3 separate regions of the Homo sapiens genome follow, and regions 2 and 3 are each linked to region 1. The links come from fine-mapping of genetic effects on gene expression. A gene starts in region 1. Each other region holds a variant in brackets. All regions are shown on one strand. Distances are between the middles of the regions.

Evidence for each region. PIP is the estimated chance that this variant, and not a neighbour inherited with it, causes the effect.
Region 2: its variant is the best candidate, but not a certain one, in a credible set for the expression of UBE3D in whole blood (INTERVAL, PIP 0.84).
Region 3: its variant is the best candidate, but not a certain one, in a credible set for the expression of UBE3D in esophagus mucosa (GTEx, PIP 0.67).

Annotation. Positions count from the first base shown.
Region 1 is chr6:83,064,262-83,068,507 of GRCh38, reverse strand. It overlaps UBE3D (ubiquitin protein ligase E3D), which reads left to right and starts at 2,667. Exons shown (of 10, transcript NM_198920.3): 1 at 2,667-2,866. The coding sequence starts at 2,790. It overlaps DOP1A (DOP1 leucine zipper like protein A), which reads right to left and starts at 837. Exons shown (of 39, transcript NM_015018.4): 1 at 729-837. RefSeq lists a silencer at 339-608 and enhancers at 779-928, 959-1,028.
Region 2 is chr6:82,885,569-82,889,814 of GRCh38, reverse strand. It overlaps a transcript of UBE3D not described here. Among named protein-coding and RNA genes, the nearest start is that of UBE3D, 180 kb to the left of the region's middle. The variant A/G (reference allele first, on the strand shown) is at 1,999.
Region 3 is chr6:82,961,482-82,965,727 of GRCh38, reverse strand. The region is part of intron 8 of UBE3D (ubiquitin protein ligase E3D); the gene reads left to right. Among named protein-coding and RNA genes, the nearest start is that of UBE3D, 100 kb to the left of the region's middle. The variant A/G (reference allele first, on the strand shown) is at 2,116.

The sequences.
Region 1 (4,246 bases):
CATAGAACTCTAAGATAGTGTAAAAATGTTCAAACACAATTTACTTAGCTTAAGAAAAATAGTTGTGTGCCATTCCCCGCCCCCCTCAGGGTACAGGAATGGAGGAGGCCCGAACAAGTGACTATTGTTATGTTGCAACTTTAAAAGGCTTAGGAATCAAAGGTGATAATTGTTAACAACACCCGTTTGACTCTTCTGACTTCCTCTTAATAAACTTCGGTACTCCTTTCTAAGCCCCACGGAGAACATGAACCATCGCGGGCCTACGTGTCTCCTCAATGCTAAAAGAACCCACCAGCCGAGAAGGCACAACGCCTCGATTCCTTCAACAAAGAGGGTACTCCGCACGCCTCCATCGCACAGGTGCGACCTCTGCCCCAGCCTTGCGCACCGCTCCGCCCCAGCAGGGGAGGCTCGGGACCTGTCCCCGGCTCCCCGGCCCCGCCTCCGGCCTCCCTCACCTGGGGCCGCCCTCGCGCCTCTGCCCGGCCCAGGCCCCGGCCCCAGCCCTGGCCCTCCAGTCCCCGCGCAGCTCCCGACTCCCCGTAAACCAGAGGGCGGCCGACCAGCTTCGCAGCTCCTGGCGGGGCCGGAGCGGCAACACCCCCGACGCCACAGCAGTCAGACTCGCAAGGCGTCCCCGCGGCTCAGGACCTAGCCGGGCCGAGAAGGATGCTCGGAGCCGGCTACCAGCCTAGCGGCCGCACTGGGGGCAGGGACGCTTTTACCTGCTGCTGGCTCGGCCGCTTCTCGCCGGCGCAGCTCTCCTGGCAACCACGGCAGCTACACCGAGACCGGGAGCCGAAGGGCCTAGTGACAGCTCCCAGAGTGCACCGTGCTCGCGCCCACGCCGGCGTCGACGTCTGAGGCCTTCGATCCCCGCCCCCGATCGGCTTCCTGCCTCCCGGCGCTAGCTGTTGCCACAGCGCCCTCAAGTGGACTGTCGCGGGAAGCGGCCATGGCTACCAATTTCAGGAGTGGCTAGAAAGGGGGTTAGCAGATGTTTTCATTTGAAGAGATAATAGGAACTGAAAACAGCTTTTAAATATTATTTGAATAGTTTCTCAATATTTCATATGAGTAACCTGCATCCCAGAGAGGTTAGGAGACTTGTGAAGTTAGGAGACAAGTAGTTGGTGTCAGATTTGGAACTATTTTGAGTCTAGAGCTCTATCAATCATATCTAGTTACTCCAAGGTAAATTGCACCGTTTTGCCAACACCATACCGTAAAAAAATGAAAGTTTTTACAAATACGTAACTAAATATATAAAAATCTTTTAAGCTAACAAAACAATTATAAAGAGTAAGTTGTGCTACGGAAGTTGTATATTTCAATATAATGTGTCAATATTTAAGCATTCAATAGCCTCGGGTACTAAAGGTGGAAGATATGAAGAGTTGAAATCATCATCCTTCAAATAGATGAATTATTTGAGACCAAATAATAGTAAACTTTATTTTTTTAAGTGAGTTGTTGCTTCCATCTATAACTTCAAATTATTGTGATAGATATAATAATTTGTGCATCAACATAATAAACTTTAATCACCCCAAATACTGATTTTAGAAAAATTGTCAAGCTATTATCTTAAAATATATGACAGGATTTATTTATTTAGAATTTATTTATGGTTTAGGCTGGGCATGGTGGCTCACACCTGTAATCTCAGCACTTTGGGAGGCCAAGGTGGGCGGATCTACCAAAAACAGAAAAATTAGCCGGGCATGGTGGCGCGTGCGCCTGTAATCCCAGCTACTCGGGAGGCTGAAGCAGGAGAATCGCTTGAACCCAGGAGGCAGAGGTTGCAGTGAGCCGAGATCGCGCCACTGCACTCCAGCCTTGGCGACAGAGCGAGACTCCGAAAAAAAATAAATAAATAAAAGCAGCTCCTTGTTTTTAAGAAGCCCTATTGTAATTCTACCCGGTCTTATATTTTAATAGTTCTTCATTATAAGTATTTACATTATACCAGGTTCTTTACTGTGTCAAACTTTTCAAAACTATCTTCTGGTAGTAAACTTCTCCAACTTCTCTTAGTTTTTACTTTTGTGAAAGTGAATAGTGGAGCTGTACATACGTAATCATTCTCATCTTCCTTTTTTACCCCCTAAAAAATGGTTAGTCCTGATAGACTTCAGCCACACTCTTCTGCATTAGGTAACAAAGAACTTCCTTATATTTTTGCACCTGTTTCAATTTTGGAGCTATCCTGTCTAAGTTGAGAAGCAATGGCAAGTCAATTCTTGAAAATTTTGTCGCTTTAGATAGAGGCTAACAAACGACCCTTGTTCATAAAGAGACCAAGATAAAGTGGGTTTGGGGCCGGGAATTCTGTTCTTGCATCTCCTGGGGACAAAGCCCACCTGTAACACTTGCCTCCATCATCTCCCTCCCTTCGAGCTAGCCAAAGGTGTGAACCCTGGGTCTGATTTTTATGGTCATTTCCAGGGATGCTAACGCGCCAAGTCACGCTCATAAGAAGCAGAGTGGGGCGATAGCTAGCCTCTCGCCGCCCACCTTTCTCAGCACTCTGGGCCAAAGCCTGGTTTTGAAAATGCGCGCCCCGCCCCGGCCTCCGGGGTCACGCGCCTTCTCGGTGGTGCACTCTCCGGCCGGCAGGTGGCGCTGTGAGCTGGTAGGCGGCGCCAGCCCTGCGATCTGGCACAGGCGCCTGCGCCGCAGCGGGGCTGCCGCTGGTTGGTCCGCACGTGGAACCTCTCCTGGTCCTGTTGACCCGGGCCCCTCGGAACCTCCAGCTTGGTCCGGTCTGGGACTGGAAGCCTGCCATGGCGGCTTCTGCGGCGGAGACGCGCGTGTTTCTGGAGGTGCGGGGACAGCTGCAGAGCGCGCTTCTGATCCTGGGGTAAGAACTGGGATTCTAGGCGCAGTGCCCAGCTCGCTTTACTGCTGCCCGGGGGTCGGGGGCTGGTGAGTCTCTCTCTGTACGAGGGATTTTGAGTTTCTTCTTTCCAGTTGCGTAGAGCCTCTCGATCACTCAAAGTGAAGCTTTCCCCTGTAGTCGGCTCCGCCACTCCCACCCCTACTGACAGTGTGGGTATCTTTGGGGAGCTTTTTAGAAATTCAGGGTCTCAGCTCCACACCAGACTTATGGAATCAAAACTTATATTTTAACAAGATTTCCAGGAATCAAATGCACATTAAAATTTGAGGAACAGTGATGTAAAACACTGTTGGCAGTGCCCGGCGTTTCCAACAAAACAATGCAAAAAATGATTTGTCTGTCTCTCTTCGGGATCCTCCTTACTGGATCAGTTCCTATGTGAGCTTCTTGTTTTGTAAATAACCTCGGGTCTTTTCGTCCAAAACTGCTCTTTGCAGAGAAACCACACAATCATTCAATAAACGTGAGTTTAGTGAACCACTAAGACAGGTTGTAGACTTCTTACTGGAGCTCGTTCATTTATTCATATTCTTCCTTCCAGTGAGAACGTCAAACTTGTTATTCGCTACACAAATAACTTTTAGGAAAAATGTTCTCTATTTTGTTTGACAGCAGTTTTAATGATTTGTGGTCCCCTTGTCTATTCCTTTGTGATCGCTGTTTCAAAGAGAGTAAGTTAGAAGTTAAAATCCTGAGAATGGTATTACACGGTGCCACAGGTAGATTGATGCTTAATTTTTTCCTCTTCCCTAAATCTGCCAGATATCTGGTGTGGCAATTTGGAATATGGCGTGAGAACTGAGTTCAAATGCTAGCTTCCTCACGAAATTAGAATAATTTAATCTGAATTTCTTCAATCTTGAAATGGGAATAATAGTACTCTGAATGTATTTCTTTTTCTCTTTCAAAATTTATGAATTTGGACAAATATCTCCAATTCTGGTGCACCTTGTAGAGTAATTAGGAACCCAAACCCTACCAAAATAAAACAAAAACCACACACACACAACAAACCCTCCCTTCCTCTCATGCAGGGGCCTTTCACAGTTCCCTTGGACTACTCTCCTTTGTTTAGGCAAGGTACCCGGGTGGCTCATGCCTGTAATCCCAGCACATTGGGAGGCTGAGGCGGGCGGATCACGAGGTCAAGAGATCAAGACCATCCTGGCCAACATGGTGAAACCCTGTCTCTACTAAAAATACAAAAATTAGCTGGGTGTGGTGGCGCGCACCTTTAGTCAGTCCCAGCTACTCAGGAGGCTGAGGCAGGAGAATGGAGTGAACCCGGGAGGCGGAGGTTGCAGTGAGCTGAGATCGCGCCACTGCAGTTCAGCCTGGCAA
Region 2 (4,246 bases), 180 kb after region 1:
TTCAAGCATAGTTACAGGTACTGCAGATAGAGATAATAAGACAAAGTCCTTGCCCGCATCGAGCTTACATTCTCATGGAGGCAGCAGACAAAAATAGAAGTACTATGTTTTATCATAAAATTACTATATATAATTTCTGCAAAGCACAATAAGACAAAGATGGGTTAAGAAAGATTAGGTGCTATTTCAGACAGGGATGGCTGAAATGAGCTTAAAGTGTATGTATACTGTATAGTACCATATATGGTTAAAATAATTCAATTCCATCAAGAGCTGCATTGTTAAAGGCCAACAGATCACATGCAAACTGCAGCCTTGCATCATTTTGCCAAAAGTAGCTTGACTAAACAAGGATCCACCGATATTAGCAAAGCGTGTTTGATTCCATAGATACCAGAAAAAAGAATCCGATTAGACCCAGACATGCTGATGTAACTGGCCTTGTGCAGGCCTTTTGGTAATTAAGTCTGCTCAGTAGCCACTGTTGTAAAAAGTGCTGACAGTGTTAAATAGTTTTCCTTTTGCATGATAAAGCCAGCCTAGTTGCTGTTCCTGTACATTTGTTTTTGCGCCTAATGTATAACAAATATTAATTGAGATCCACATTTCGTTGTTATTCAGGAATGTAGGAATGATTGGTACATCTTAGTCTATAGTTAGAGAAGAATCACCATTAGTGTTACCCATCAGAGGAGTGTGTCCCACTAGATGCTTATTTAAGAGTTCTACACATTCTTAAATCTTAAATACACAAGACCACTCAATATGATTTAATGTAACCATTTCTCTTGGTTTACATTTTAAGATGCTTTTACATTTTAAGATAGGTTTTACCTTTTATGATACATTGTACATTGTAAGATATATTTGAGATTTCATCTACTGAATCAGAGCTCATCATCAAAACTTAATCTGGGAGAAAAAGTAAGAGGGAGTTAATGGAAATCAGTCATAAGAGGTAAATCCTCCAGTTTTAAGAAGAATGACAAACATAATTGTTCAAAACAACATTTTTAAAAACATCTAAACTGTACTACCATTCTTTTAAAAATATGTCCCTATTTCCATTCTGGAATAAACTAAATCAATTTGTTCTCAATACCATTACATATAAATTATGAAACCCATTTTCAAGGCCACCCTTATTCTAGGATCCTTTGGTTACAAGGTACAATAAGCAGAGGGCAGGATTTGTGTCCTAGTCGTGTCTTTTAGTAGCCTTCCTGGGACCTTTGGCAGCCTTTCTGGTCAGAATGACAACTGCTGGCCAGATGACTACATTTTCTTTATTCACCTTTCTCCCCTATTATACAAAGCCTGATTACTTTCTTTCTATAAATATTTCAATATTTTTATTTGATCCCTTTTTAACATTTCATAGATTAAAACTATTTTCTATTTTATTACTTATTTTAGAAAAAAGGTGAAAATGATTTTTATTGTCATAATTTGTATGCACTCTATTTGTGTTTTGGTTGCAAATTTCAATAAATCTGCTTAAAAAAAAAAAACCTAAATCATGAACACCACAAGTGGTTAACTTAATTTCAAGCAGTAGCAGCAGTAGATTGCCTATATGGAGGTTCTGGCTGAACTCTTCCTAAACTCAAGGAAAACAGGGCTTGTCACCCTCTGCCCAGTACCCTTCCCAGCCTAAAAAGGACATGGCAGGCTTTCTGCAGATTGAAACTGGGAAAGAAATTGTAAATAGAAAGCGCCTTATAAGTGCCCACAAAAAAAAAGGTGGAATCTTCTCTCTTTTTTCACTGGAAACCAGAGAAAGGAACCAGTCTTTGGTGAAAAGGATCTCTCAGACCTGTACCTCCCCTTACATTTCCCACACCCTCTTCCCCTCTTCCTAGGTAATAGCATTTCTAGGAAGAAGAGCCAGAAATGCCAGCTTTGATCACTCCTGTGCTCCCTTTCCTGAGCCCACACTCTGGGGTTGATCACTGTGTGACCCCTTCACTTGAAACTTTCTCTTCATAGGATGGTGAT[A/G]TAAGTAACAAAATTAGTCATCATTAGTTTTAAGTTCCATAGTAGTACATATTGGACTCAGAAAGTATACCATCCAATATTCTTTTCTTTTCTTTCTTTTTTTTTGGGGGGATGGAGTATCTCTCTGTTGCCCAGGATGGAGTGCAGTGGCGCCATCTTCGCTCACCGCAACCTCCATCTCCTGGGTTCAAGTGATTCTCTTGCCTCAGCCTCCCGAGTAGCTGGGATTGTAGGCGTGCACCACCACGCCCGGCTAATTTTTGTATTTTTAGTAGCAATGGGATTTCACCATGTTGGCCAGACTGGTCTCGAGCGCCTGACCTCAAGTGATCTGCCTGCCTCGGCCTCCCAAAGTGCTGGGATTATAGGTGTGAGCCACCGCGCCCAGCCCACTATTCTTTCTGAAAAAAAAAAAAAAAAAAAAAAACTGTTACTGTCTCCTCCAAATACAGGGTTTGTTTGTTTTTTCTCTCTCTCCCTTTTTTTTTTTTTTTTTGAGACAGTCTTGCTCTGTGGCCGTCTGGAGTGCAGTAGCAGTAGCACAATCTCAGCTCACTGTAGTCTCTGCCTCCTGGGTTTAAGTGATTCTCCTGCCTCAGCCTCCCAAGTAGACTACAGGCACCTGCCACCACACCCAGCTTTTATTTTTTATTTTTTATTTTTTTTGGTATTTTTAGTAGAGACAGGGTTTCACCATGTTGGCCAGGCTGGTCTTGAACTTCTGGCCTCAAGTGGTCCACCCGCCTTAGCCTCCCAAAGTGCTGAGATACAGGCATGAGCCACTGCACTAGGCCCAAATACCAGTATTTTGAATAATAAACTCAATATAGGGCACTATAAATTCTCTGAATTGTTCATTTGATTATACATACTCTGTTTAGTGCCAATGTTAAAAAAATTCTTGAAATAAGGTTCATAATGTAACAAAAGAATTGAAATAAAATTCCACATTTCAATTCAATACCATCTGAAAAGTGATGATGTCAAGAAGAAACGAAATAGTGGCCAAGCATAGACACTTTGTCTAGCACAGGCAAGAGACATTTATTGTTGATATCATGAGAAAATTAAGTTGAAACTTTTTTTAATTTCTAATGAAATCACCAGTAAGTTAGAAATGTGTGTGTTAAAAATCACTAGAGGAAACAAAGAGAACTTGATAAAGAAAACACATTTCCTACGTATCTTTCCAATCCCGTGACAATTGCTCCTGGCAATTTTAGAAGAGCAAGTTTCAATGCTTGTGTTTACTTTTTTCCCTTTATTCCATCAAGCCAAGGATGTTCTCTACATCAGGGGTCTCCAACCCCCGGGCTATGGACCAGTACCAGCCTGTGTCCTATTAGGAACTGGGCTACACAGCAGGAGGTGAGTGGAGGGTGAGGAAGCATTACTGCCTGAGCTTTGCCTCCTGTCAGATCAGGTGGCATTAGATTCCCATAGGAGGTGAACCTTGTTCTGAATTGCATATGAGAGGGATCTAGGTTGCGTGCTCCTTATAAGAACCTAACCAATGGCTGGTGATCTGAAGTGGAACAGTTTCATCCCCCTTCCACCACAGGTCCATGGAAAAATTGTCTTCCACAAAACCAGTCCCTGGTGCCAAAAAGGTTGAGGACCGCTGCCTTACGTAAGCAAAGGCTACCACCTGTGGTTTTGCCACAGTGGTTGTATTCCTTACACAGACATAAAGTGTTCCGGAAATGAGTACTGTCATTAGAGATTGCTTTGTATGAAAGTAAAATTAAGAATGGAGGTGAGAAAAAACACACAAGAGAAACTGGCAAAGCAGTGAGTGATGATATCAAACTGCTGGTGTGGACCCCAGCAGTTGTGGAGTACAAAGAGGGCCCTCCCAATGGACAGAGAAGGCATCCTTGTCTGGATGAGGCAAGATTTTATGTGGGCCTTAAGTGATTATTAAGATTTGGAAAGATGGGAAGAATAAGACACTCTGGAAGAATGAAACTTTGAAATAGTAAGAACATTTGGCTGGATTGGAGGAATTGAGATTGGACTGTGAATAAGATAGGAAAGAGTTCTTGTCAGATTGTGGAAAGCTTTGAATGCCATCATGAACCTGCAGAACAATCCCCTTCCTCCTGACTTCTCAGTGCTCAGGCACAACAAGAACAGAAAATATATATTTTTTGTACCCTTGAGGGCTTTTTGAGCTCTAAAATGTAGATGCGGTAGTTAAAAGTGAGAGGGTTCTAGAATCTGCCTGCCTGGGTTGAAATGCCGCCTG
Region 3 (4,246 bases), 100 kb after region 1:
AAATCTGAAGAAGTAGCTGGCCTCTTTAGATAGACTTCTAATTATTATGTTCTTAATTATATCACTTCTAATTATGAAGTTTCTGACAGGCTTGTTTGTAGGGTGGATTCTCCTCTTCTTCTTCTTTTTTTTTTTTTTTTTTTTGAGATGGAGTTTCGCTCTTGTTGTCCAGGCTGGAGGACAATGGCGGTATCTCGGCTCACCGCAACCTCTGCCTCCCAAGTTCTAGCGATTCTCCTGCCTCAGTCTCCCGAGTAGCTGGGATTACAGGCATGCGCCACCACACCTGGCTAATTTTTTGTATTTAGTAGAGATGGGGTTTCTCCATGTTGGTCAGGCTGGTCTTGAACTCCCGACCTCAGGTGATCCACTGGCCTCGGCCTCCCAAAGTGCTGGGATTACAGGTGTGAGCCACTGTTCTCTTCTTTAATGAAAGTGTTCCCAGTCTAATTTCTGTGTTCTTAGTGACTGCTGTCTTGCAATGATACAAGCATTTATAAAAGACAACATTTCTTATTTTTTGGCATGAAGTAATACATTTAATTTTGAGACTGCCTTATTGGTATCTTATTTAAATGAGAACCATTTTCCCAATGCTTTCTGATGTGTGGGAGATTTACCTTGACAAACTTACAGTCATATGGGCAAAGTTTGAAAGGCATAGCATTCAGGAATTGTGTACTTAAATTCTCTCAAGATCCCTTTAATTCAAAGAGAATTAAAGACCAATTTTGGCATTTGTAATTTGAAAGGGTCAAATTTTTCTTCTGTCATTTTCAAAGAAAAATTTTCTTATGGATACTGTTCATTACTTAATGAACTTTATTTGGACAAACAGTAGTTTGTGCATTTTTTCAGGGTCTATTTTTATTTAATTAATGCTTTTGAAATATTCTAAGTATAATGCAGTCAATATGGCTCATCAGAACAGACATTCCAATATATTTAGATGTTTCAAAATGTTGTATTCCTAAGAATGGCTTATAAGAATTTTAAAATTTTGGTTATGTATTAAATAGGTGAATGTTTATAAAAATTCTATCACTAAGTTGTTGCAATTTGCTTGTTTTGCTAGTTTGTGAGCTTAAATTGATGGACATATCATTGGCGTAGCTTTGAAAGTGAGCATCTAAAATTTACAGGTATAAGCAACATAATATTTCAATATCTTTAATAGGCTCTTTGCTTTCTTAGGTTCTTCTAGGGTTGAAGAGTTCAAATTATCTACTAAAATATGAGAAACGAGGTTTAAGTTAAATATTTTCATCTTGAGCTCTCTCATACATACCATTTTTTCTTCTCTACACAATAATATTTTGGATTCCTTTTAAATATTTTAATTTTGGTAGAGTTGTTATATCATTTCTATTGTCATTTTAACCTGTGTTACATTAAACGACCTCCATGTTTCCTAGAAGACTATATCACCTTTCTATTTACTCAGGTTCTTTTCTTGATATTGATTGGTTTGATTCATTCTCAATTTCACCATTTATGTTAGAAGTGATAGAAAGTGACTTTTTTCCCTTTCTCAATGCCTCTTTGAAAATAGATAGGCCGTAGTTGCTTCTCTAGGGAATTTTGACAAGGCAAAAGTTTAGAAATAAGGATGGTGTGTCCTCTACTTGTATTTTGGTCTGTTAGACTAAGGTCATCTGGCTGACAGTTCTGGTCTCCTAGGAAAGCTTTTCCTCTCTCAGTACTTTAAAAATCATAGAAGTAAGTTTCAATTGACGTTTAGTTCATTGTTCCTTTTGAAGTATCTTTCTTATTGACTTATAGTGGATGATTACTGATTTAGGTCCAATAGTCTGTGATGTCTTTATAGGAAATACCAGAAATGTTCCAGATTCTGCCCTATGGTTCTTAAAATGCTTGATCAACAGACATTTGTATTGATATTTATGATGGTTCATACTGAATGTCAACTCAGTTGGGTTGAAGGATGAAAAATGTTGATCCTGGGTGTGTCTGTGAGGGTGTGTCTGTGAAGGAGATTAACATTTGAGTCAGAAGGCTGGGAAAGGCAGACCCACCCTTAATCTGGGTGGTCATCATCTAATCAACTGCCAGCCCAGCCAGGATATAAAGCAGGCAGAAAAACATGAAAAGGCT[A/G]AATTGACTTAGCCTCCCAGCCTACCTGCTTCTCCCATGCTAGATGCTTCCTGTTCTCGAACATTGAACTCCAAGTTCTTCGGCTTTGGGACTGGGGCTGGTTTCCTTGCTCCTCAGCTTGCAAACAGCCTATTGTGGGACCTTATGATTGTGTGAGTTAACACTCCTTAATAAACTTCCCTATATATCTATCTGTCTTATTAGTTCTGTTTCTCTAGAGAACCAAGACTAATATAATATGTGAGTCATGGGCAGAGTTGCAAATGACACCTCTGGCTTTATCAACATATGTCCTAAATTCCACATAATGAGTTTGGTGATTGTTTTAGGATATACTGTATGAATTCAGTATGCCAAGCCATTTCTTCCTCTTTCCATTTTGTTCTCTTTTATTTCTTTCTCCAAAAAAAAAAAAAAAAAAAGATGAAAACTTTACCTGAAGTTTTAAGGGAAAGTTACCTGTAGTTCTTACTCTCCTAAACAACTAATTTCATTTTTATTTATTACTTTCTTTGTTCATATGTATGAATGCTTCCTGTGATTAAAGTAATATTTTATGTGATTGAAATTACAGAGAAAGTTTATAAATCATAACATTAGAAATAAGTCCTGAGACTCATGAAAAACGTACTGTGGGAATAGAAAGAGCAGGATGAACATTAGAAATGTGAGCAATATTAGACCTAGCTAGTTTGTCTAATTTCAAAAATAAGATTGCTCAAATTATTTTAAGATGAAGGGTTTTGAGATATCTAGAATTTACCCTATCATTTGCCTTTGGGGTTTTTAATCTCTTTGGGTGGAATTAAATAATGCCTAATATACTTTTGCCTTGTTCATGGAATATTAAAAAGAATGGGATTTAGATGGTAAAGATCATGCTTGAGATTTTCCTATCATTTATTGGCCCTGTGATCAAGATAACACTCTTTTCCTTTATGCGCTTCAATGGGAATAAAAATTGTTAAATCACAGAATATTTTAAGGATTAATTTTAAAATGCCAATGTTGGATTTACATACCATGCAAATGTCTGTAATTACATAGAGACATGGGTAACTAAAATGATAACTAATTGTATCTTTTTTGTGACTGTGGTTATCATTACTGTAACAATGTCCTTTTGTATAAATTTTGATAGTTTGATACATTGGACAGGTTGTATACCTGACTCCAAGGTCCTGTGAGGAAATTAGGCTCCAGAGTGCTTGTCCATGATCACTCACTGATGAGTGACAAGGCGGTGCCAATGTATTTTTATTTCTATTTGAGTGTCCATTTTTGATAGGTCATACCATAGCCATTTAGCAGCATGTTGAAACTTTTAAGTAGCATTTAAAATTTCCTTTGTCTGAACCAGAAATCACATCAACAGCATAACATTACTTGTTTTTGATTATAAAAATAACACTTGAAAAATAAAAGTATAAAGAAGAAAATGTAAAAACCAGATTATTATTTTCCTGTAGTGGAAACAACTGTGAATGTATTGCCCCCTAATCTTTTTTTCTCATCACATGGTTATTTTCACTTACTCTAACATGAATATTTTTCATTGTCTATCTTACTACCTTTCCTAGTCAAGTTTTAAAGTAATACAGACACACACACACACACACACGTATAAAAAATAAATTAGCATCTTTTTTGTTTTTTTTTTTGTTTTATTGTTGCCCAGGCTGGAGAGCAATGGCATGATCTCGTCTCACCACACCCTCTGCCTCCTGGATTCCAGTAATTCTCCTGCCTCAGCCTCCCGAGTAGCTGGGATTACAGGCATGCATCACCATGCCTGGCTAATTTTTTGTATTTTAGTAGAGACAGGGTTTCTCCATATTGATCAGGCTGGTCTCGAACTCCCGACCTCAGGTGATCCTCCCACCAAATAACTTCTTAAAAAAAGATCAAAATACTCAACTATATTTTGCAAGCCAAAGAGTTATCTTGCAGAAGAAGTAGGCATTAGCAGATTCAGTTATTAAATTCCTACTTATGGTTTGCTTGGAGAGGATAATATATACAGTGTCCTCAGCAGTCAGTGTGGTGTGGTGCGAATAGCACAGACTTTGCATTCGGGCTGACCTGACTGAATCCTGGTCCTACTTCTTGCTAACTGCATGATGTTGGACAA